Regions from separate parts of the Homo sapiens genome. Here all the other regions are reported to be linked to region 1. Evidence: microRNA targets listed by miRTarBase, many of them from high-throughput screens and not tested one by one. Region 1 holds a microRNA gene; each other region holds the end of a gene's coding sequence.
Evidence for each region. The annotated mature microRNA hsa-miR-6771-3p reads CAAACCCCUGUCUACCCGCAG and lies in region 1 at 1,458-1,478, opposite strand. An mRNA with a match to its seed (bases 2 to 7 or 8) in the 3' UTR can be bound and repressed. Matches are read on the target gene's strand: a 7mer-m8 pairs with bases 2 to 8, a 7mer-A1 pairs with bases 2 to 7 and ends in A, and an 8mer does both.

Region 2: the mRNA of TTL is a reported target of hsa-miR-6771-3p. The part of its 3' UTR that is shown has no 7-base or 8-base seed match.
Region 3: the mRNA of BEST3 is a reported target of hsa-miR-6771-3p. The part of its 3' UTR that is shown has no 7-base or 8-base seed match.
Region 4: the mRNA of ZNF639 is a reported target of hsa-miR-6771-3p. Seed matches in the 3' UTR shown: 7mer-m8 at 2,115-2,121, 7mer-m8 at 569-575, 7mer-A1 at 234-240 and 7mer-m8 at 139-145.
Region 5: the mRNA of OTUD7B is a reported target of hsa-miR-6771-3p. Seed matches in the 3' UTR shown: 7mer-m8 at 2,894-2,900 and 7mer-m8 at 1,211-1,217.
Region 6: miRTarBase lists TCEA3 as a target of hsa-miR-6771-3p. The part of its 3' UTR that is shown has no 7-base or 8-base seed match.

What each region holds. Positions count from the first base shown.
Region 1 is chr16:50,290,026-50,294,132 of GRCh38, reverse strand. MIR6771 (microRNA 6771) reads right to left here and starts at 1,517; the gene lies at 1,458-1,517. It overlaps ADCY7 (adenylate cyclase 7), which reads right to left. Exons shown (of 26, transcript NM_001114.5): 3 at 3,473-3,676; 4 at 2,236-2,397; 5 at 1,308-1,457; 6 at 631-779.
Region 2 is chr2:112,528,556-112,532,662 of GRCh38, reverse strand. TTL (tubulin tyrosine ligase) reads right to left here. Exons shown (of 7, transcript NM_153712.5): 7 at 1-3,982. The coding sequence ends at 3,868. Among named protein-coding and RNA genes, the nearest start is that of POLR1B, 12 kb to the left of the region's middle. RefSeq lists enhancers at 3,067-3,567, 3,568-4,068.
Region 3 is chr12:69,651,525-69,655,524 of GRCh38, reverse strand. It overlaps BEST3 (bestrophin 3), which reads left to right. Exons shown (of 10, transcript NM_032735.3): 10 at 1-1,916. The coding sequence ends at 618. The region is part of intron 3 of LOC105369823 (a long non-coding RNA gene); the gene reads right to left. Among named protein-coding and RNA genes, the nearest start is that of LRRC10, 43 kb to the right of the region's middle.
Region 4 is chr3:179,333,994-179,338,100 of GRCh38, reverse strand. It overlaps ZNF639 (zinc finger protein 639), which reads right to left. Exons shown (of 6, transcript NM_001303426.2): 6 at 1-4,107. The coding sequence ends at 3,679. Among named protein-coding and RNA genes, the nearest start is that of MFN1, 12 kb to the left of the region's middle.
Region 5 is chr1:149,940,094-149,944,200 of GRCh38, forward strand. It overlaps OTUD7B (OTU deubiquitinase 7B), which reads right to left. Exons shown (of 12, transcript NM_020205.4): 12 at 1-4,107. The coding sequence ends at 3,764. Among named protein-coding and RNA genes, the nearest start is that of MTMR11, 5.3 kb to the left of the region's middle.
Region 6 is chr1:23,377,867-23,381,973 of GRCh38, reverse strand. TCEA3 (transcription elongation factor A3) reads left to right here. Exons shown (of 11, transcript NM_003196.3): 11 at 500-1,065. The coding sequence ends at 508. Among named protein-coding and RNA genes, the nearest start is that of ZNF436, 10 kb to the right of the region's middle. RefSeq lists an enhancer at 3,720-3,789.

The DNA.
Region 1 (4,107 bases):
CATCTGCACCAGTTCTCCCTGCTCCAAAGTCCTTAAGCTCATGGACCATCCACAGCCCAGAGAAAAGGCAGCGGGCCAGCCTTGGATGTAATGCTGGCGCTGCAGGCAGAGGACCCAGGGGGTCTCCTGGGACCCACATCTACACTCAACGGCACCCAGCACCCACATCGACACTTGACAAACTCAGGTCAGTGCATTCAAGTAAAATTTTGTGGTTCCCTGCAAATCAGCCAAAGACAGGTGTCAGAACCGGGGCACTCTTGGGCACCAAGGCCGGGGGGCTTTACCTCATTCTGGGGGTCCTGTGCTCCCTTGAGAACCATCTGAAAGGACCCCTTCCTTCACAAAAGCTATGTTTGCTCACACAGTTTTACAGTTTTGGGGGTGTGCTAGATCTTTCAATACCAATCTAAATTCTCTAATTTAAGAGCCCTGATCTGATCCTGCCCACAAGTGGGGGTTCTGAGACCCAGGGAGGGCCCCAGATTGACCTGGAACCATGGGGCCCTCTCCCAATCCCTATATGGGCAGGGGTCTGAGCCTCCAGATAGGGCGGGGAGGCCGCCTGGGGGCCGGTGGAACGGTGGGCCCAGTCCCCGGGATATGCTAATCACACGTCTCACCGCCCACCTGACATTCTGGTGCCTCTTGACGTAGAGGCTGTGGAAGTTGTTGTCAGGCATGCAGCGACGGTCACCATGCTCCTTGAGCCGTTCGATGATGGCCAGCTTCATGCCCATGGAGATGTGGGCCGGAAGCACTGACAGCAGCAGGTTCTCCTGGGTGTGGGTGGGCAGACCAGCAGAGGGACCAGCAAAGCGACCGGCGGAGGGACCAGCGGGGGACAGGCAGGGTAGCATCAGGTCCCAGACCTGGCCTCCTTGGCCCCCATCCTCCCTGCCTGCCTGCCCTGCCCACAATGTCCCCATCTCTGCTCTTGTCCTCCACCAACCCAACTGAGCATCTACCTCCCATGTACCCAGCAGCCCCCGGGACTCAGGGTGACTGAGAAAGGGCTCTTTCAGCTGGGGAGGCTAAGCTGATGGGTGAGCAGCCTGGAGCCACTACGGCCTTCTCTGCCGCCACCTGGGGACTGCGTGCCCAGGACTGAAACCACACAGAGGAAGGCAGAGTCAAGGGTCAGCAGGCTATGGTTACCCTGCTGGAGCCCAGGACTCACCGAGGTGAGACCTGCATGGGTGTCTGGCCATGCACCTCATGCACATGGCAGCATGAGTGTCTCATGTCCAACAGAAAGAGGAAGAGGACAGGGGTGTACAGGGTGAGGAGTGGGGGCCGGGTCCCACCTGCTGGCGCTTCTCGATGCGCAGCTTCCGGCGGATCTGGATGCACTTCACAGTGTAGGTGAAGAGGTCCCGGGATGCATCCTGCATTTGGTGCTTGTGGAAGGCGCCTGTCAGGTTCCCACACAGGAAGATGACTGCGTTGGCCAGCAGCTGCGGGTAGACAGGGGTTTGGCTCATTATGTGGCCTGGCCCATGCCCTCCCGAGGCACCAGACCCCTAGGCGGACTAGTGATGGCACCTCTTCCCATTCCCTGACCTTCAACCCACTGAGAATGGCACTCTTCCTGGGGCAGACAGGGAAACTGAGGCCCAGACAGGAGCTAGTCTCCTAGTGAGTCACTAGGACTGCAAGACCAGGACACCCAGGGAGGCAGAAGAGACCACCTCACAGAGCCCAGGGCCCGAGGGGCATGCGTGCTAAGGGCAGTCCCAGAGGGCACAGCGCCCAGCTGGCTGTGTGGAGGGCCAGCCTCTGCCTGGAGAGGACACCAGGCCTGGTCAGAGGGAAAACACTTCTCTAAACACCCAATAATTATGAACAGAAGATTCACTCATTCAACACAAAGACACAAGGCAGTGCCCTGGGGTACTCCCCCAAGCCCCGCCAGGACAGGGCCTTCGAGGGGAAACTTCGGCAATGGGACTCACCCCACGACAGTGTCCCTGAACCGGGAGGCAAGGCCTGAGGTCACGACCCTGAGGGCTGAGCCACAGGGGAGCCCTAGGCCAGCAAAGCAAAGGCCAGAGGGCAGGGCCACGCCTGGAGCCCAGCTTCCGAGCAGACGTGGAGAGGGCCCGGCCTTGGAGCGGGCTGTCTGCAAACACGGCTCCGGGGCCTTCGGGTCTGATTCACCCAGAGGGGGCCCCCCCATCTGCCCTTAGACCCAGACCACAAAACCTCCCCCAGAGGCCTTAGCCCATCCCTCACCTGCAGCCCCACCCGGACACTGGGTGTCGTGAAGCCTCCCATCAAAGAACCGAGCACCAGGAGGTGGGAGGCAGTGGAGACGGCCCCAACGGCGACAGCGCCCCGCATGCTGAAGGGCAGTAGTGTGTACACCACGAAGACAATGAACAGGAAGAAGGGCACCTGTGGATGCAGCCTGGTGAGCCCGGTGCCCCAAGATGCTGCCCCAGGCCGTACAGCCCCCGGAACCCTGCACCACAGCAGCCCACCCAGTGCGTATCCTTAGGTTGGCTCCCTCGCCACCCCCTGCGTGGGCAGACATACAAGGGAACAAGAAAAGCCATAATGTGTTTCTAGGGTGGGCCCGGCCACAAGGTTCATGGTTTCCTGTGCTGATCCACTGCCTGTGGCCACCCTAGGTGGGAGGCTCCATGCCCCGCGTGATCCAGGGAGCCCCCACCTGGTGCCCCTGCCACGTGGTTCTCGCTCAGCAGAAATGATTACCGGGAGGCTGAGGCACCCTCTCACCAGCTGCCTCCAGCAATGCGGCCCCACCCGCCCTCCCTCCACCCCCAGAGCTGCCCCACCATCCCCACCGGCTGGTCCTGCGTCCACCCCTCTGGGAGTGCTGCCCTCTCCCTCCCCTTCAGTCCACATGGTTTCCTTGGGCCTCACCCCACCCTGCCCCAGCCACAGGAGCTGTCATAGGACCCAGGCCCACTGGTCAGAGTGTGCTACCGCTTGGTGACAGCCTCTCTGGGACTGGGCCCATGACCACAGCCAGGCCAGTGTGGCTCAAGCCTGCAGGTCGAGCTGGTTGAGAAAGGGCCCTCTCTCTCAACTGGGGTGGGCAGCCTGGAGCCGCTGTGAACTTCTCTGCCCCCACCTGGGGACAGCGTGCCCGGGGCCGAAGCTGTCCAGAGGCCCCAGTTCCAGTTACCCACTGGAGCCCAGCACTGACCCCTTGGCCTTTCCTGACACAGGAACCAGTTTGTGCCTTTTTGCCTCTTTGAGCTGAAGTTCTGTCATCTCCAACCAAACTGGAGCCACCCAAAAGTGCTGCAGCCCAGCGTCCGAGTGGATGCTCTCCCCACCTCAGCCCTGTCAATGCAGAGAACTCACAGGGACAAAACCAGCCTGGGGCCATCCTAGACACACAGCCAAGCGTGGGGCACGAAGGGCCTGTGGCATGCCCACCAACCACGGGGATGGGAGCTGCTGAAGGCGCAGCTGGCAGGGAGTCCAGAGTTCCTGTTACCTGCTCCCACGCACAGGCCGCCTTTGTCCATGCGTCGAACACCAGCACATAGCCCAGCGCCACCAAGCAGGCCCAGGTGAGCAGCGCCAAGGCCCTGAGCCAGCGCCGCAGGAGACACTCGACGTACATCAGCACAGAGAGGGCCGCAAACACCGCCAGCACCAGGAACGCCATGCCCAGAATGGCCTGGTGTCTGGAGGGGTCCTGGGTGGAGCAAACAGACAGGAATGCCTCGGCTTTCCCCAGTGCAGAGCCACCTCCTCCAGAAAGCCTGCCGGGCCGGCTGCCTCACTTACAGCTTCCTCCACGTGAAGGGTGTGGATGCACCCTCCCACACCTGGTTCCCACTCACCTTCTGGCCTTTGTCACCTCTGCCAAGGCTGCCTCAACCACCCCCTTCCCATCATCTCGGGAACCAGAGCATCACCCACAGCCCCGCCCATGATGCCATCACTCTCCATCTGCCTCTGCCTCCTCTCTGGGTTCCCACGGTGCTCTGTGCACAGCCGCAGGTGATACCACAAGCACAGGGCAGGACTCATTCACAGGCAGAGCCTTGTAAAGCCGCCCAAAGAGGACACTGCGCCTGGCCCTCAGTGAGTGAGCAGAGGCTGGTGAGGGATACCAGGAAAAGT
Region 2 (4,107 bases), not on the chromosome of region 1:
GTAACGGCATCATGGATTTATATTTACTTTATTATTTATTTACTTTTGAGACAGGGTCTTGCTCTGTTGCTCAAGCTAGAGTACAGTGGTGTGAACATGGTTCACTGCAGCCTCACACCTCAGCCTCAAGCGATCCTCCCACCTCAGCCACCACCACATGCCACCATGCCCGGCTAATTATATGGTGAATTTAAATGACCAGTGATATCCCAGGACAGTCAATACCTACAACAAGAACCAAAGAGCACAAAAACACTTGAAATATCATTACTTTACTTTAGTGTTCCAGGCATTTTAAATATTCATACAATCGCCTTATTTCAGCAGTCATTTCCTCTCCAGTACAGATTTTGTGTCCAGAACCAGAGCCATGTACGTCACTGAATTTTCTCTACAGCACCCGCATGCTACACGGGACCTACTCCGGTGCCCATGTCTTTGCTAGTAGAGCCTCTCACCACACTTGCAAGAGGGCTGGACCTCCCCTTGCTTGATGTAGCCTCCACTGTGAATGAAAACACACTTTGTCACTTCGATCACAGTACATTTCCAGCACTCCCAGGTGTTCCATGTATGTGGCAATCATCCCACAGAGCTAGTGACACATCATGTCAGCTGGTACCTATGTCAGCACCTGCTCCACTATATCATACAGATGCTGAGGCACTTAAATGTTCTTGGTAAAATGGAGTTCATAATTGCCATAGGAGTTGAGTTTTGGGGAAAGGGACTTTCAATAATTAATACCCTTAATACATATTTAGCAGATTTATAATTTCGTGTCTGTTTACATTTGTTGTCAAAGCTTCATAAACTATTTATGTAAATGAAAGCATGTTTGAGTTTCCAAATGCTGCTATGACAAGCAAACAGAGAAACTGCTTAGACAACACCTGCTTGTGCCATAAATACATACGGCAACATCCGGTCATCCTTAAAGAAATGCTTGTGTTTCCAAAAAGAATTTTTTTTTTTAAGTCATAAGCCTTATGCAATTCTTCCAAGATAATAATGTGTTTGTCCTTCCTTCTCAAGCATGGTTCAAGGCATCTCAAGGCATATTGCTGTCTGAGGTTCTGATTTAACTGTCCGGGGGTACAGGGGAAGAGTGGGCACTAACATTTTTTAAAAGCTTCACAGTCATTCCAGCATGTAGTCAGTGTTGAGAACCTTGGTACTAAAGGCTCTTGCATCTTCCTACTGTCACTTGTCCTCATCAAAAGCCCTTGAGGTAGTCCCTGGGTCAGGCAATGATCTCTTTCATGGGCTAAGAAACTAAGGCACAGAGAGGTTAACAGGCTCCTCTGATACTGTGCAGTCAAATGACAGAACCATGATTGCAACTGACATTTCCAAATAAACCATGACTCCTCCCCCAGCAACGGGTAGCACTTACATGGACCAAAAGTATGAAGCCTGACTGGGAGCCAGGCATAACCTTCTGTGTCAAGGACATCATGGAAGGGAAAGGAACAGTTCTGAACCAATCATTCCGCATGAACAGAAATAAATACATAAAGCCAGGCTTGGTGGTGTGCACCTGTAGTCTCAGCTACTCAGGAGGCTGAGACGGGAGGACTGCTCAAGCCCAGAAATTCGAGGCTGCAGTGTGCTATGATTACAACTGCGAATAGCCACTGCAATCCAGCCTGGGCAACACAGTGAGACCACGTCTCTGTAAAATTTTATTTAAAATTTATTTAAAATTTATTTAAATTTATTTGAAATTTAAAATCAAATTTTAAAAATTTAAAAAATATTTTTTAAAAAGGAAATAAGTTCCTAAGATACTTATTGGAAGCCACATGAGGAATGAGGCATAACTTTTTCTTTTCTTAAAAGTCTTACTTCCCTCTTATATATGCCATTGAGTCAGGTTTCTCAGAAAATCCATCAAGATTCACAGACTTCCTGACATCTGAATTCTTAGCTCTGTTACTGTGAGGGCTAGAAAACTCGTGAATGTCTCTATAATTTGGGTCCAAAAGATAATTACAAACCTCTGTTAGCATGTGACAGCAATACAAAAATGCCCATGCTTTCCCTGTCACCCGCCCACCTAGACTTGCCAGGGACCCAGAACCCTACACGTTCTAACTGGGTATACATCTTCCCAGGATCCGATCAGATCTCACTCCCATCTCAGAATTTCCCAAACACCAACCCATCGGCTGCGTTGGGCCTCAAGGATTAATGACTACAACTGACTGTTTTATTTTGCTCTACAGGCAAACTTTTAAATCTGTATTCTGGGTAACCCCCAGGACGTTTATTTTGTAATTCCAAATTTCCATGAGAGCCAATTCACCTGGGACCTTCTCCACTTCACCCCAAGGTAACACCCTCACATCCTATCAACTATTGCTGTACCTAAGAAATAATTTCTATCATTATTGCCTTTTTCATTGTAAGTTCTCACATCTCATCATGTTCAAGGAGGCATTGATTTTCTCCTCTTTTGTAAAAGTCTCACCTGACTGCAGAAATGTTTTCTTGAGCCAAGTAGAAATGAGGAATGGAGCACACATAGGCATGAAGAAAGAACGTAGCACGTTCTGGTGGGGAGGGCAGTTTTCAATGGGTTGCTGTGATTTCCAGGACACTCTAGGAAGGGCCTGTTTACTCAGCTTACACTGAACACAAATGACATCTTGTTCTCCCTACTGCTAGTGATGTGGCCTCCTGAAAAGCCTATAAAGTATTAGTTAATCCAGTAAGCGGAAGCCACTTCTAACAGTACACATTTGTTGAGATTTACAAGACACTGTGTGGAGATGAAACCACTTCTTTCCCATTTTAGAAGACTTCCCCATTCAGGCAGGATATATACTCTCCTAATACCCACAGGCACAGGAACTCGAATCCTTCCTGGAAGGAAACCTGTCCCTCTAGCTACTGCAGAAAGTGCTTGGGGGCATAAAAAGAACAAAAAGGGGGAAAGCAACCTTTGTCTGGGGCAGGGCCACTTGGGGAGTGGAATTTTACTGACTCCTCATCCTCAAAGAGGTTTTTACAAACGTTTAAAAAAAAGTAAAAAAAGAAAAAAAAAGGGAACTAGGCAAAACTGCATTTAGAATTTTGGTTAAAGCAAAGAAAATTGAGAAAATTGAATCATCATATTTTCAAAGACCTACCATATTCAACCTATTAAGTAAAGCAATATATCATGTTTTTTTCTCTCTCATGCTTATTTGATGCTTACAGGTTCAGGGCAGACTTGCCACTTTGTTTCTAAAACATGCAGAGAGCAGACTTAGAGCAGCATATGCTGTTTTGGGGCCCAACCCGCACAAACCCTGACAGGTGACTGACCAAACACCATCAGGAAGGTGATGAGGGAAACCACCTTTGCCGAGAGGCCAGTGCACAGCACAAAACTAAGGACTGTTGGTGCATGCTTGTACAGAGCTTAGTGTGGCAGAGTGTTACCGAAGGGATGGGTGGGGAACACACAGGCAACCTCCAATATGCTCTGACGTCCAATCCATAGTCCAGAGCAGTGGGGCTGCAGCCGGGCATGGAGCTAAGGCACTAGGGCTGCAGTGGGTGGGAGGCACCGACCAGAGGTCCCAGTGCCCTGCCGTTCCCGGGGAGAGGGGAAGGAGCTCTGCTCACAAAGCTGCCTTTGTGTACCAAAGTTGTTTTCAAAAGTCTCAACAGCACTGCTGAGAGCTACATCTGGGAAGCCCCCTGAGCAGCCCTCTCTTTGGGAGCTGCCTCCTCTGCTCACGTGCCTTCTTCCATCTCATCTTTGCGAGTTGCCTTTCTTTCCCCTGCTGTGGGCTGGATAAAGAGCAATCCAGTCATTTCACCATTCCCTGGAGCAGGACCCCGTGCTTTTTCCAAGGCAGCAGGGAGTGCCCTCTGTCACAGCTTGATGAAGGCAGCTGGCTGGGTCTGAGGTTGCTCCACATCTGGGGGTGGGAAGACACTGGAAATGGCTATGTCCACGATGCCTTGGCACAGTTCTGCATAGAGCTTCCTGAAATGTGTTTTTAAAAATATCATTGAGGATGTTCATCAAAGTACAAGCAAAAAAAATAGATGTTTTTTGTTTTTGAGACAGGGTTTTGCTCTGTCTCCCAAGTTGGCATGCAGTGGTGCGAT
Region 3 (4,000 bases), not on the chromosome of region 1:
TTCAGCATGGGAGAGCTGTCCACCATCAGGGAGACCAGCCAGACAAGCACTTTACAGAGCCTGACCCCACAGTCCAGTGTGAGAACTTCCCCCATCAAAATGCCACTGGTACCTGAGGTATTGATCACAGCAGCCGAAGCACCAGTGCCCACATCAGGGGGCTACCACCATGATTCCGCTACCTCCATCTTGAGCTCTGAGTTTACAGGGGTTCAGCCAAGCAAGACTGAGCAGCAGCAGGGCCCCATGGGATCCATCCTGTCTCCCTCAGAGAAGGAGACACCTCCTGGAGGCCCCAGTCCCCAGACAGTTTCAGCCAGCGCTGAGGAAAATATATTCAACTGTGAAGAAGACCCTGGTGATACCTTTCTAAAAAGGTGGAGTCTTCCGGGATTCCTGGGGTCCAGCCACACTTCCCTGGGAAACCTAAGTCCAGACCCCATGAGCTCTCAGCCAGCTCTTTTAATTGACACAGAAACATCCTCAGAGATCAGTGGGATCAACATTGTGGCTGGCTCTCGAGTCTCTTCTGATATGCTGTATTTAATGGAAAACCTGGACACCAAGGAAACAGATATCATAGAGCTGAACAAGGAAACTGAGGAATCACCCAAATGAGTGCCACCAAGTTCTAGGACCTGGTTCTAGCCTAGATTCTTACCTCCCCAAAAGCAGCATATTAGGCCCAGGACATACCTGAAGGCTGGTCGACTTTTTAAAAAACATGATCACACTGTATAAGCTACTTAGAACTTTGAAGGGCATTATGATCCTGACTTTTTGAGAGCTGCGAAAAATCAAACGCATTCACGTCATCCAACACAACATGGCTTTCATCAGAAGTTACACAGACCACAGTGATTTAGCCAAATAAGTCTTAACCAAAAAAAGGAATCTGAAAAACATACATGACTTATAAATTCATAGATTATTAGTTGTGGAAAGAGTCTCATAGATCATAGTCCAATCCCCTAGACCCAAAGGCCCAGACACGCAGGGTTCTCTATTTCTCTTCTTTTTTCTCTTTCTTTTTTTCTTTAGCCATAAAGAAAGGAGATGGATCACCTAATGCCTGAAAGATCCCCTCCTTCCTAACGTTTTTGTTTGAGGCTTTCTAACCATCTCATTCCTACTTTTATAACTATTATTGTTATTATCACTTCCTGATTCTTAAGCTTCATCAGCACCAGAACACTTAATTCTCTTCAATTTCCTTTTTTACTTTTCTCTCTTTTCCTTTTATTCTGTCATCCTTTTTTTCCCTTCCCTTCTCCCTGGTTGTGCTGCTTTTCTAGTAATCTGTCCCATTTTTCAGGTTATAATATTTCCTCTTGCCAAATCTGTTGCTTATGTCTTGCCATGAATTTCAAAATATAAGACATTGGCAAAGCCTCCTACAGAATCATCAAAGGTGTCAACAAATCCAGCCTGATACCCTTCCAGTCTCACTTCCAGTGGAAGGCATATAGGAGTGATGGTTCCCCCCGTGCCCTTGCAGCCATTGACATTTCTTTCTGCTTCCACTATTTGGTGTTGGGCACTGGAGAAAAACGAAGCCAAGAGAATATGAAATTTGCATAGCCAAATGCTATGGAACCAAAGAATAAGATGACTCACATCTGTTTAACTTGAACTCTTATGCAAAAATCCTAATCGTGTCGCAACACGGGACCAGTTACTGTGTCTATCGGGTCATTTGGGAATGGGCAGGATACTGGAGCTGGGAGGCTAATGGGGTCCAGAGCTGCATAATGGGGATCGGATGTTGGTACTCCTCCCAGGGAGCTCTCAGGACAGCTGTTTGTCGTGGGCTCCCAAGTGCCTAGGCCATGCCTTACGACTGCTGCACTTACCATTTGTCATATGATGGCACTTGACTACATATGGCTTTAGAAATAAAATAACCCTCAAAACTACCATTTATTGAGTGCTTACACTGTTCCAGGCAGCAGCGAATCTTATGAGACTGATATACTGTTATTTCCATTTTAAAGACGAGAGAAACAGGCTTTAGAGAAGTAAGGTATTTGCCTAAAATCACATAGCCGAGAAGTGACAGTGTTCATCTTCAAACCCAGGTTTATCTGACTCAAGAGCCCACACTGTTAACCACTATGCTTTCTCACTGCCCTGTGCTATGTGTAAGGCCCTGAATCTGCCAGCAATTTGCCCAGCATTCTGGAGGATGCCCCAAGGGAGGCATGCCCAACTCACAGATTCAGGCTAAATCTCTCCAGCCTCAAGGGCCTCTCTGGGTCCTCCCCGCTCAAGTCTACCTGCGTCTTTTATGCATTCATAGAGAAGGGCATTGCTCCAGCTTGGAGTACCACCCATAGTCCTCTTCATTTTTCATGACAGAAAAAAGTTGGCAGGACCCTCCTTCCCTTCACCAACTCCTCCTGATACGCAATGTTCAAATTAGCACATTTTCACAAGACCTCATATCTCCCAGGCCTCCAAGCTGCATGACAACAATGACATTTACTTTAACTGACTTTTCTCAAAGGACTGAAAAGAAATAATATTAGAGGAAATGCTATACCTTGATGGTTCTCTATGTTGGTTGGTAGTGTTAGCATCTGGGAAAGCCCCGTTATTCCCAAAGCACTACGTATAGACTATGGGATCAAGAGCCAATATAACACTTCTAGAAGGCAGGATCCCTAACCTTCTCCCAGTCACCAGGCTCTTAATGCTATTTTCTTGGGTATTTCAATTTCAGTCTGTCTATTCTCTTCTCTTTAGCTCTGTCTGTTGCTCAAATTCAAGTAAGTTTCTACTTAGCTGCTTTTGAAACATAATCAGTTTTCATTCCTAAATCCAAGGTGATAAATTATACACAAATATAATAATACATTTATGAAGGGCTGGCAGTGTTCATTTATCTCTGCTTCCACACGCCCCTTATGCACTTTTATCCAGATAATTTTTTAATTTCCTCAATATTTCTTCAAAATTTGAGATAGACTCTCATTTTCTTCTTGCAATGAAAACTAAATTATGACATGCTCAATGAGCCCGTGTGGTTGAATTCAGCTATAAAATCAAACCAGCAATTGCTCAGAGCAGATGAAGAAATTCTCTATTAATTCTAAAATGAGTTTTTACTCAACACAGACCACGGTTGAAAAAAACAAAATGATTTCTTCTCATGTACCTGATTTCATTGCCTGCCTAGCTCCTTTTTCCCTGAGTCCTGGAACCTTCACCCACCTGGATGAATGGTCACATGGCCTGGTGGCTTAATCTTTTGAGTTTGCCCATTCCAAGAACAGGCTCAACTCTCTCACATTAAATGTGATCCAAAAGCCAGAGAGTGCGGTGAGGCCAAGCTCTATTTGTTGCGTTCTCTCCCTGCTTTGTAGAGATAACTCTGCCCTGATGCTGGGGTTTGTAGTTCAGTAAGGAAATGGCCCACTAACTTTTTCTCAATTTTCCAAGAATTTTAGAGAATGACTGGCACCCAGCAAAACAAAGAAGGCTGTTATCTCCCCTTCCTTTATTGTCCTGTCTACTTCATGGTGTATCGCCTCCACCACTCCAGACATCCACTTTCAGCCTGGTTCAGCTAAGCTATGGAAAATATTTTAAATGGAATGGAGAAATGTAAAATTTGCCATGAAAGTAAAGATTTGTTTAAATCTTAGAAATACTCCTCTTGTTTTTGGTGTTTTCGCCTCTAGCTTCCTTCTTCTCCAGAAAAATCAATTCAATTTTTTTCTTTCTTTTTTTTTTTTTCTTTTTTTTTTGAGACAGAGTCTCACTTTGTCGCCCAGAGCTGGAGTGCAGTGGCACAATCTCTGCTCACTGCAACCTCCACCTCCTGGGTTTAAGCAATTCTCCTGCCTCAGTCTCCCGAGTAGCTTGGATTACAGGGACCCGCCATCACACCTGGCTAATTTTTTTGTATTTTTAGTAGAGACAGGGTTTCACCATGTTGGCCAGGCTGGTCTTGAACTCCTGACCTCAAGTGATCCACCCATCTTGGCCTCCCAAAGTG
Region 4 (4,107 bases), not on the chromosome of region 1:
GTTTTTCTGAAGTTCTTTAAGTTAAAAATAAAGACTGGCCGGGCGTGGTGGCTCAGGCCTGTAATCCCAGCACTTTGGGAGGCCGAAGTGGGTGGATCACAAGGTCAGGAGTTCAAGACCAGCCTGGCCAAGATGGTGAAACCCCATCTCTACTAAAAATAGAAAAATTAGCTGGGTGTGGTGGTGGGCACCTGTATCCCAGCTACTCGGGAGGCTGAGGCAGGAGAATTGCTTAAACCCGGGAGGCAGAGGTTGCAGCGAGCCAAGATCACGCCACTGCATTCCAGTCTGGGCGACAGAGCAAGGCTCCATCTCAAAAAATAAATAAATAAAGACCAACTACTTCAAGCAATTTATGGTCAATCATTGATTTGAAAACTGGGCCAAGGCGAAAAGGTTTTGTGGGACAAACTGTCATTGGGATAGGTCCTGAAGCTGCAGATTCATCAAAAAGTCCAAAATTATGCCGGGTGCAGTGGCTCACGCCTGTAATCCTAGCACTTTGGGAGGTCGAGGTGGGCAGATCACAAGAGGTCAGGAGTTCAAGACCAGCCTGGTCAACATGGTGAAACCCCGTCTCTATTAAAAACACAAAAATTAGCCGGGTGTGGTGGCACACGCCTATAATCCCAGCTACTTGGGAGGCTAAGGCAGGAGAATTGCTTACACCTGAGAGGTGGAGGTTGCCTTGAGCCAAGATCACGCCACTACACTCCAGCCTGGGCAACAGAGCAAGACTGTCTGAAAAAAAAAAAAGTACAAAATTATATGGTTCTGAAACTTGGATATATGTCTCTTGAGTAGCTGCATTGCAATCTTTTCTTCTTTTCTTTTTTTTTTTTGAGACAGTCTCACTCTGTCACCCAGGCTGGAATGTGGTGGCGCGATCTCGGCTCACTGCAAGCTCCACCTCCCGGGTTCACGCCATTCTCCTGCCTCAGCCTCCCGAGTAGCTGGGACTACAGGTGCCCACCACCACGCCCAGCTAATTTTTTTTTGTATTTTTAGTAGAGACGGGGTTTCACTGTTAGCCAGGATGGTCTGGATCTCCTGACCTCGTGATCTGCCCATCTCAGCCACCCACAAAGTGCTGGGATTAGAGGCGTGGGCCACCACGCCCAGCCTGCAATCTTTTCAATTACTAACACTTGATCCAAATGTAAAGCAGCAAATAGATTAAAAGAAAACAAACAAACCAAGGCATTACTTAAGGTGTTTTTCCAAAAATCCAATTCCTGGAGCTAGATGTATAAAAAGCATAAAAACAAAATTATCAACAACTAGGTTAATTGTTAGGTGAAGTAGTCACAAAAAACATCCCAGGGAGAAAGGTTAGGTTTATGTAACATGATGTAATGGAAACATCACTAGACAGTAAACCAGATAACCTGGATCCCACTCCCATGAGACATAACTGGTTATATGTACTTGGCCTCATAGCTATCTACATTTCTATTTCTGCAAGGAACTTAGAAAACTGGAGGGTTTAGACCAGATGCTTTCTAAGGTTATCTTACAATTTAAACTGTTACAATTTTAAGTCTTCTGAGAAACATTTGTTATCAGCCGTAACAGGAATGTTATAATTAGATGGAATGTGAGTTGCTAGGAACACAGGTATGCACATACAACAAAATAGTGGGGATAAAAATAATACCTTCTAAGAATACTTGCAGCCACCATTGTCCAAACAGACTAAATTCTTGAAGTGGGAAAATCATTGGTCATAAATTGATCTTCCACTTATATCAATAAACCTAAAAAATAATGTTAGCAGTGCTTGTTAAATTTGAGGGCAATGATACATATAATTCTATCTTCTTTATAGTGCTGTTTCAGACTCTGCTACTCAATTGTGTTCCCTCCCAAATTCATATGTTGAAGTCCTAAACCTCAGCACCTTAGAATATGACCTTATTTGGAGATCAGGTCTTTAAGTTAAAAGGAGGACATTGGGAGGGGCCCTAATCCAATCAATATGACTGGAGTCTTTATAAAAACAAGAAATTTGGCCTGGGGCGGTGCCTCATGCCTGTAATCCCAGCACTTTGGGAGACTGAGGCAGGTGGATCACCTGAGGTCAGGAATTTGAGACCAGCCTGGCCAACGTGGTGAAACCCCGTTTCTACTAAAAATACAAAATTAGCCTGGCATGGTGGCTGACGCCTGTTAACCCCAGCTACTTGGGAAGCTGAGGCAGCAGAATCACTTGAACCTGGGAGGCGGAGGTTGCAATGAGCTGAGATCGCGCCACTGTACTCCAGCCTGGGCGACAAGAGTGAAATTCTGTCTCAAAAAATTAAAAAAGCAAAAAAAAAAAAAAAAAGAGGAAATTTGGGGGACAGACTTGCACACAGGGAGAACACCATGTGAACATGAGGCTATCCATCTACAAGCCAAGGACAGACCTGAAACAGATCCTTCCCCCACAACCCTCAGAAGGAACCAACTGCCAATAACTCCATTTTGAATGTCTGGCCTTCACAACTGTGAGACCATAAATTTCTGCTAGGTAGGCAACTCAGTTTGTAGTAATTTGTTATGGCAGCCATACGAACTAATATTGATGCTAATTTATCATTTTATTAATAAATGTTGTAAGTTATACATTTTCATGCCAGCAACCCCTATCTCCCAGATCTTCCTAACTTTAAATACTTCAGTGGGTTTTCTGTCAATGAACAATTTGACATCAGAAATTTGGGCAAGAGTCAGGCATAATGGCTCATGCCTATAATCCCAGTGATTTGGAAGGCCAAGGTGGGAGGATTGCTTGAGTCCAGGAGTTTGAGACTGGCCTGGGCAACATAGCGAGATCTCATCTCTACAAGAAATTTAAAAACTTAGCGGGCATGGTGCCACATGCCTGTAGTCCTAGCTATGCAGGAGGGTGAAGTGGGAGGATTGCTCGAGCCTGGGAGACTACAGCCCGGGAGCTATGATCAACCACTGCACTCCATCCTGGACAACAGAACGAGACCATCTCTAAGAAAAAAATATTAAGTCTGTGAATGAATTTATGGTTCCTCAACAGAAAATGAAACATCAAGTTATGAATGAGTTATGATATAGTTATTTTTTATTGTGTAAGCCCTTATTAGTTCCTCCCTCATCCCATCTTAAAATATTCAACAATAGATAGTGGCTCAAAAATTTTTTTTTAAAAAAACAGACTGCCATGAAAACCAAATCTTTTCTTCCTGTAATAGTGGCTTCCTAGTGTTATTTCTCATTAATGGGAGTATCCGTGGACTTAACTGTATATTGCATTTTAGTTCTGGTCGTGTAATAATTTAATGACTTCACACATAAAAAACTAATCTTGTCTTGAGTTTTAAAAAGTTACTAGCACCCATGGTTAAGGAAGGAAAACTGTAGCTCACTTCTTCAATACATTTGTTTCTTTTCAATTCATGAAATCAGAGAATATGGAAGAAACAGGATGACAGTCACCAAGAGTGGTTGAAACTACAAACTATCACGCAATTGAAAATACCACATTAAAGATATATTTATATACAGAAAATGGAGCAATGCCAATAAAATTTTATAATTTAAAAAAGTTACTTGTTAAAGGCAGATTTCATAAGTTGTGTTTACAATCATCCATTTAATCATCTCCAAAAAAAGGATGAATTTATTATTTTAAACTAACATTCTGTAAGTTAAAGAGAATAATCAAGTTGTCTCATGGACTGGAAGGTGACTTATTAATTCCCTTTCATTTCCAAACCTCATCAAGCAGTCACTACATTTATGAGGCAAGTCAGCTGAATGCTTGAAATCTAGATGAATTTTAAGATCTTCAATTTGTCCTGTTGAATATTCACAATATTGACATAAATAAATCCCTTCAGATAAATGTGAATTTAAATGCTTGCAATATTCTAGCATACTTGAAAAGCCTTTCCCACAGTCATCACAAACATGAGGAAAAATTTTTGTATGTTCAATAGCAACATGCCTGTTAACATTTGTGTGAAGTCTACTCCGAAAACCACATACTTGACATACAAAGAAGTTTTTACATTTGTCAAAGGTAATTTTGCTTAAGAGGCTATACTGTCCATGTTCACCATTGTTATACTTATCACTTAACTCTATTAA
Region 5 (4,107 bases), not on the chromosome of region 1:
AAGCTAGGTTCTCAGAACACATTCAAAACCAGCTTTATTCTTTTGGGCTCAGTATCACCCCGCAGATATACAACACGAAGTCACTGCTAATTCTTGTTTGTCTGTGGGCCTTAGTTTCGCTTGATAGAAAAAAAAAAACTGAGCTAATAGAGGGAAGGTACTTCCCTTCCACTGCCCTCTACAGCACTGAGTTTAACACCATCTCCACTCCTTAAAAAGACTGAATCTTTAAAAAATCTTTGGATATAATCTTTTTATTTTGTTGATAAAAACCAGTATGGAGGAAAAACTTCTGGTTAAATCTTGTAACTTTCAATAAATGCAGCATAGGTTAAGGGAGAAGCGGAGGCCTATCCTACAGTAATACTTACTCCATTGGAGATGGGGCAGAGAGCACAGCAGGGAGGGAGTAGCACTGTCTAACATCAAAAAGGGAAAAACAAGAACCCTGAAAATCTCCCCTCTCCATTAAAAACTTCAGTAGGTACCCCAGTTGCCCTGGATTAAAGGAACTAAGTGCACTTAAATTTAAGCCTGAGAGATGATATCATCCCTCACTTGGGGTTAAAGGGTCTACCTTCCCCCTTCACTCACACACCCCTCCTTAACTAAGGAATTTTTCTGCCCATTTCGAGTGCAGGCCATATGCCCCTTCTTTCCTTCTCCCCAACCCAGTAACGACATGGGCTTGCCTCTTCTATTCCCTCATCTTCCCAAAATACCACAAACCAAGCTGAATCTATATTAATTTCCCAGGCATTATTCCTTCACCTCCCCCCATCCCACCAAGACCCTCCCCGAAAGAATGAAGCAAAACAAACTTCACTATCTCCTATAAAAAATATCCATTGTCTCAGGGTCTCTCATCCTTAGAATGGAGAGGTTTTTCAATGCCTCAATAAATAGTTACCCTCCCAAATAAAAAAAATAATTTATTTCTTAATAAAAAGCTATAAGGCCTAAAGCCCCATTTTACCATATTCACCCCTAGACCACCCCTCAAAATTTCCATCTTTTTTTATTTGAAAATAAAGCAAACGGAATTGGGATTGGCTAACTTATAAATAAAAACAAACATGATACAAGGTTTTTTGTTCATTTGTCCTTAGTTTTTAAAAACAAAAGTGTTAACTAGAATCTAACAACAGATCAAATCCAAACACAGCAGTCCAGTGGAGAATCAAAACTTTTCCGGCTTTATTCTCTGGGAAAACCCCTGGTCTGTTTTCATTCCTATTGGTCCAGGCCACCATTCTATGATATGAAGGCCTAAATTAGGAAAGCTAGGTGAGCTGTGCAAATTCAGGGTGTCTGAGCCACCTGTTGTTTGGTGTGTGATGGGGGTGGAGGCGCACACAGTGGTGTTCTCGCTAGTGTTCAAATCACAGAAACAGGGACGTAACTAGGGTGAGGTGAGCAAAGCACTCACCTTGGGCACAAAATTTAAGGAGTGCCAAAAAACCCAGTAACCAAGATAAATACTATTTTAATGCAACATTTTTAAAAAATCACAATTAATGTAAAAAGTCTATGATGGACAATGTATCAAAAATTTAAATAAGAAGGATTCATCCCCATACTTATTCAATTCAGCCTCACTTCCCTCCTCCTAATCTCAGTCCTGTCAGATCCTGTAAGATTTCGCTATTTTATCCAACATAAATTTTTTGCATTAATTTTTTTAAATACTGCATTTTTTATAGTATCTTGATTAATGAGTTTTATAGTAACCCTTAAATTTTGCAACTTAGGGGAGTGCTCATCTCATACCAGGTTCCAGACCTGCCTAGACATATACACATCCCTTCCTTTGGAATCTCACTGCTTCCTTAACACAAATCTATTTTCAAAGAAAACCCTAAGAATTAATAGCCATAGGAAATTATTAAATCAGATTTGGAAAATAGGTGACTTCTGAGTTTGTTGAGGAGAAAATAACCTTTATAAACCGTGAGCATTTCCAACAAGGACAATCTTGACTGGCTACCGAGGAGGAAAACACACACACATATGCACGCACGCACATGCATGCACGCTCAAGTGCTTTAGATCAAATGTGGGGATTACGTTCCAAGGGATGGGTTATGAGTACATACCTCAAAAGAGAAATCCAAACACAGAAAAACAGCCCCAGTTAATACTCTGGACACATAAGTACACTTATTCCCCTTCTTCACATGCACCCGGGAGTGTATACAATTGCATAGTTGACTTTTTTTCCCGGAAAAAAATATAAAGAAAAAGGAAAATTGGCCCAGGATAGGTCTTCCGGTTTAAAGCTCTTAGAAATGGCTCTGGCCAGAGCATAGGCTGTTCAGACTTGTGCTTTGTGCAAAATGCGAAGGAGCTCCCCCTACTGTGTCCGCATCCCCACTCCCAGCCCCTAGAGAACAGGGAAGGGTCAGGGAAAGGGAGAAACCTAAAGACAGATCAGCTCATTGGGAGTCATCTGTGCTCTGTGGTTATAGTTCACTAAAATATATTTCTCTAACTACCTTTTTATAAATTGCCCCTATATGTTTCAACATCAGTCCTAATATCAAAAATATCTCTTCTTAGAAAGTATTTTTAATTATTTTAATAAACTAACCACAGATTAAGGTCAGCTATGGCTTAACAAAAGAAGCCGGGATGTTAAGTTCATTCTCCAAAAGTAGAGCAAAGGGAGAAAGAACCACTTAAGTAGGAGGAAAAAAAATCATTTTTTAAATGTTTTTGCTTGCTGGGGTCTTTTTATTTCTTTTCCTTAAAAAAAAAAGTCAATAAAATAAGTTGCTTTCTACAGAAACGCAGCAGCCACAGAGGCCTGTAATGCTCTACTTAGGTTTTTGGTTTTGTTTGAAACAGCCTCTGGCTAAAATGTCTGTCCTCCCACCCCTCCCAAGGTGCACTCAAACCCCAACGTATGGTTATTGCTGTGGTTAAAAAATAGATCAGCTCTGCCCCAATTCACCTGGAGAAAATGCAACACACATGACGGCTGTTCTCACCACACTCTTCCCTTTAAACAAATACAATTAAAGACTTAGATGAGGAAAAGACAGGGGGTAATCAGCAATCTCTTCTCAAACTGTAACAGATGACATATGACTGCTTGGAAGGAAATAAACCTTAAGAGGAAAAGGATTTCCCTCTTAAGTTCCTCCCTTTCCCATCTAAACAAACGGATTTAAACTACCCCCACCTCCTAACAGGCACCCATGAGGACACATTACTGCCTTGTCTTTCCAGATCCTTCAAGGGGAAGAATTTATCCAACCTTAATTTCTAGCTTAATTCAAATCAATAGCAAATGTGTCCAATTTCCCACTTCCCCTCCACACTTCTCACTCCACCATGTGCTTTTTCCCAACCTAAAGAACTTTGGTTTTATTGACTGAGAACCTCCTTTGCCCATTCCTCCCCAAGACTTCTGCCCACCTCCCACCCCCACACACCAAACCTTCCCCTGCTACTTTCTCTTAGGTCCCTGGATGGGACCCAGGAGGTTATAAGACAGAATCGCCATCTTTTCCCCTTGTACCTCAAACCTCATCAAGTCAAGCTCTGCAGAGGAATAGTACAGCCCCTGAGGTGCCATCCAGCCCCGACCTGCTCTTGCCAGCCTGGCAGCACTCCTGTGTGCACACACTTAAAAGTTTCCAGCCAGGCTCCCACAAACATTACTGCATTTTCCCCCTCAACATGGGGACTGTGTTCTTGATGAGCCAATTAGTTGAGCTTAACTTTGTTTAGCCTCCTTGCCCTTCAGTGTTCCACCCGTTCAGAACCTGTGCACCAGGAGCTCCCCATCCGGTTCCCGCTCCCTCCTCCTCAGTTCTTCCCTGTAACAACAGGAACAGAAGTTGTTTGTCTCAGGGTGTCCATAGAAGCTGCAGTTCGGTTGTTTGCATTTGGTCTGAGTTGGGGGAAGGCCCCGGAGACCTCCAGCCCATCCATCTGGCTCAGGGGGCTCTCTGTAGCCATTGCTATAGGAATCAGCCACTCGGTAGGGGGGTGGTAACAAGGCACCCCTGTGAAGTCCATCCTTAGAGTGGCTGCCTGGCTCCAGAGAAGGGATGCTGTCCTGGTGGGGGTAGGGTCGCCCAGGAGGGCACTGTCTGGGGA
Region 6 (4,107 bases), not on the chromosome of region 1:
ACAGAATAAATGCTCAATAAATGTAGCTCTTGTGATTTTGTTACTGTTAGAGAAAGGACATTCTGAATGCTTTAAATCCAGCTCCTCTTCCTTGACTCTTACTAGTTGGAGGGACAGGATCCACTAGAGGTAACAACTACAGACTTCTGAACACATTTTCAGTTGGTCTCCGTTGCCATGTGGGAGACCAAAAGTCTAACCAAGTGATTAGTAGCCATCCCAGTGATGTTCTTGACCATAAATTGAGAGCTCAGCACATTCCTGGCACCGAATTGCCATTCATTTATTACCTGATATCATTCTCACATTCACAAGCTTTATGAGCTCATTTTACAGGTGAGTGATTTGTTCAAGATCACACAGCTAATAATGGCAGAGCTGGGCTTTGGACTCTGGTCTGTGTGGCTCCAGACACCACCTTCTTTTTCATATTCCCCCACAGCCTCCTTGGAGGATGCCGAGAAACCTTTCAAATTTTGTTGCCTTTCTGGTTTTGTAGTTCTGCTGATGGAACAGCCAGCCATGAACAAGGTGAGGAAGAAGAAAGAGGAAGCGCTGAATTATCTGAACTGGAGAAGCAATAAAAATTAAAGTGAAGGAAAATACTGAACTCTGTCTGAGTGGGATGGTATGAGTTAGAGGAAGAATTCTCTTGCAAATTAATAATCGGTCATTAGAAACAATTGGTTAATGGGGGAGCCTAATTGGAGAATGATGCTGAGAATTTGTATTGATGAACCTCTTTTAGAAACTGCAGAGGGCTGGGCACGGTGGTTTATGGCTGTAATCTGCAAACTCTGGGAGGCTGAGGTGGGAGAATCGCTTAACCCCAGAAGTTTGAGTCCAGCCCAGGCAACACAGCAAGACCCCATCTCTATAAAAAGAAAAAATAAAGAAACTGCAGCGCCTTAGACCTGAGGTGTCATATCTTTGACAGTGGGCTGGCAGACGTTTGCTTTGAGTTCCTTCTCTCCCATCTGGATCTCCCAGCCTTTTCCAAATTGAAAAATGCCAGATCAACACAAACCTTACCCCACCCCCACCTCCGAGTCACACGTGCAGAACTGTTGATACACCATTTGGCTTCAGCAGATATTACTTCCATACTACGTATTAGGTTGCTGCAAAAGTAATTGTGGTTTTTGCAGTTACTTTTGCAGTGGCCTAATAGAAATATTTCTTCCCTACTCTTTCCTCATCTCTTCCCAAACTCTCTGCTATTCCCTGTTCACAGCTGGCTGTGGGGGCCTTTGAGGACTCCAGATCATATCCCTCTAGGCAGGGAACAGATCCTCTTGAGCTGGGCTTTCTGAGTGGGCTTTCTTGAGTGGGCTTTCTGAAGATTACAGCAGCACTCTGACTTCCATGGCCCTTTGAAAGTCCTGAGCCTCAGAACCTGCCCAGGCCCTAGCAATGTGTCCCTCACAGCTCCATCTGTGACCTGAGCTTCAGAACACATCTGCAGAGCACAGAGACCTTGCCGTGCTTCTCCCATGATAATTATTGGCTTGCTTTTTTTGTTTGTTTGTTTTGTTTTGTTTTGTTTTTTTAGAGGCTGGAATGCAGTGGTGTGATCTTGGCTCACTGCAATTTCCACCTCCCAGGTTCAAGCAATTCTCCTGCCTCAGCCTCCTAAGTAGCTGGGACTACAGGCATAAGCCACCAAACCCGGCTAATTTTTTGTATTTTTAGTAGAGACGGGTTTTCGCCCTGTTGGCCAGGCTAGTCTCAAATTCCTGGGCTCAAGTGATCCACCCTCCTCGGCCTCCCAGAGTGCTGGGATTATAGGTGTGAGCCACTGCACCTGGCCTCGGCTTGCTTTTGATGCTGACAGGAACTTTCAGCAAAGCTGGAAACTTCTAGAAAAGCCTTGGGGAAGCTGTTGGGGCAACTATAACCCAAGTTCCTCATATACCCTGGATATCATTTACTCTAGAATTGGTTACTGTCTTCTTCCTTCCATCCATAAGTGCCTTCTCCTGTAGATGAAGCCCGGAAATAAACTAGGTACAGGAGTCTTCCACCTTCTTTGACTTTTATTTATTTTTATTTATTTATTTATTTTTGAGACAGGGTCTCTCTCTGTCACCCAGACTGGAGTGCAGCGGTGCAATCTTGGCTCACCGCAACCTCTGCCTCCCAGGCTCAAGTGATCCTCCTGCCTCAGCCTCTTGAGTAGCTGGGATTACAGGCACGCACAACTACCACCTGGCTAGTTTTTGTATTTTTATTAGAGACAGGGTTTCACCATGTTGGCCAGGCTAGTCTTGAATTCCTGACCTCAAATGATCCGCCCACTTTGGCCTCCCAAAGTGCTGGGATTACAAGCATAAGCCACTGTGCCCGGCCCCATCTTTGACTTTTTTTTTTTTTTTCTGAGACAGAGTTTCACTCTTGTTGCCCAGGGTGGAGTGAAATGGCACGATTTTGGCTCACTGCAACCTCCACCTCCTGAGTTCAAGAGATTCTCCTGCCTCAGCCTCCTGAGTAGCTGGGATTACAGGTGCCCACCACCACACCCGGCTAATTTTTTTTGTATTTTTAGTAGAAATGGGGTTTCACCATGTCGGCCAGGCTGGTCTCGAACTCCTGATCTCAGGTGATCCACCCACCTTGGCCTCCCAAAATGCTGGGATTGCAGGCGTGAGCCACCGCGCCTGGCCTGTCTCTGACTTTTAAACAGTTAGATTTGGGGTGAATCCCTTTCTTGGAAAGATCGAAAATCCTCTCACAGATGATACAACACAAAGAGCTCATAAATGGCAGAGCCAGGACAGAAACCCAGGTCTTCTGCTTCCTGTCATTGTGCTATAAGAGATCCAGAGCTATACACAGCGCTCAGCCCTTACCTTCCAGGAAGTCACAGCCTGGCAGGGAAAGAAACCATAGGCACAGATTTCCACACCAGACGGGATGCGATAAATGCCACATACATCTGAGGGACCAACATTATCCACAGACGTGCAGGGGGATGTTGCTGAGAAACCCAGATGTTTCTTAAACTTTAATATAGGTGAGAATTCACTGGGCATTGTGCTGAAATGCAGATTCCAATTCAATGGGTCTGGGGTGGGCCTTGAGATTGTTCAATTCTTTCTTTCTTTTTTTCTTTTTCTTTTTTTTTTTTTTTAAGACAGGGTCTCACTCTGTTGCCCAGACTGGAGTGCAGTAATGCCATCATGGCTCACTGCAGACTTGACCTTCTAGGCTCAGGCGATCCTTCCACCTCAGCTGCTGGAGTAGCTGAGACTATAGGCATGCACCACCACGCCTGGCTAATTTTTTATTTTTTATAGAGATGGGGTCTCCCTATGTAGTCGAGGCTGGTCTCAAACTCCTGGGCTCAAGCAATCCTCCTGCCTCAGCCTCCCAAAGCGCTGGGATTATAGGCATGAGCCACCGCACCCAGCTGATTTTTCATTTCTAACCCCAATGCAGCTGGTCCACAGACCACACTTTGAGTAGGAAGGCCTTAGATGTCCAGATTTTTCTCTGTATTATGTAATCCTCCATCCAAATGTCTAGAAACCAAAAGCAGAACAAAAAGCAACCACTGTCAATTTAATAAGGCCAATAAAGGTTACTTTCGGGTGAGTTTTTTGTTTTGTTTGGTTTTGTTTTGAGACAGAGTCTTGCTCTGTCGCCCAGGCTGGCGCAATCTCGGCTCACTGCAACCTCCACCTCCCGGGTTCAAGACATTCTCCTGCCTCAGCCTCCCAAGTACTAGAACCCCAGTACTGGAACCACCACACCCGGCTAATTTTTGTGCTTTTAATAGAGATGGGGTTTCACCATGTTGGCCAGGCTGGTCTCAAACTCCTGACCTCAGGTGATCCGCCCGTCTCAGCCTCCCAAAGTGCTAGGATTACAGGTGTGAACCACCACGCCTGGCCTTGAGTGAGGTTTTTTTTTTTGAGACAGAGTCTTGCACTGTCGCCCAGGCTGGAGTACAGCGGTGTGATCTCGGCTCACTGTAACCTCCACCTCCCGGGTTCAAGCAATTCTCCTGCCTCAGCCTCCTGGGTAGTTGAGATTACAGGCACCTGCCACCACGCCTGGTTAATTTTTTTTTTTTTTTGTATTTTTGTATTTTTAGTAGAGACGGGG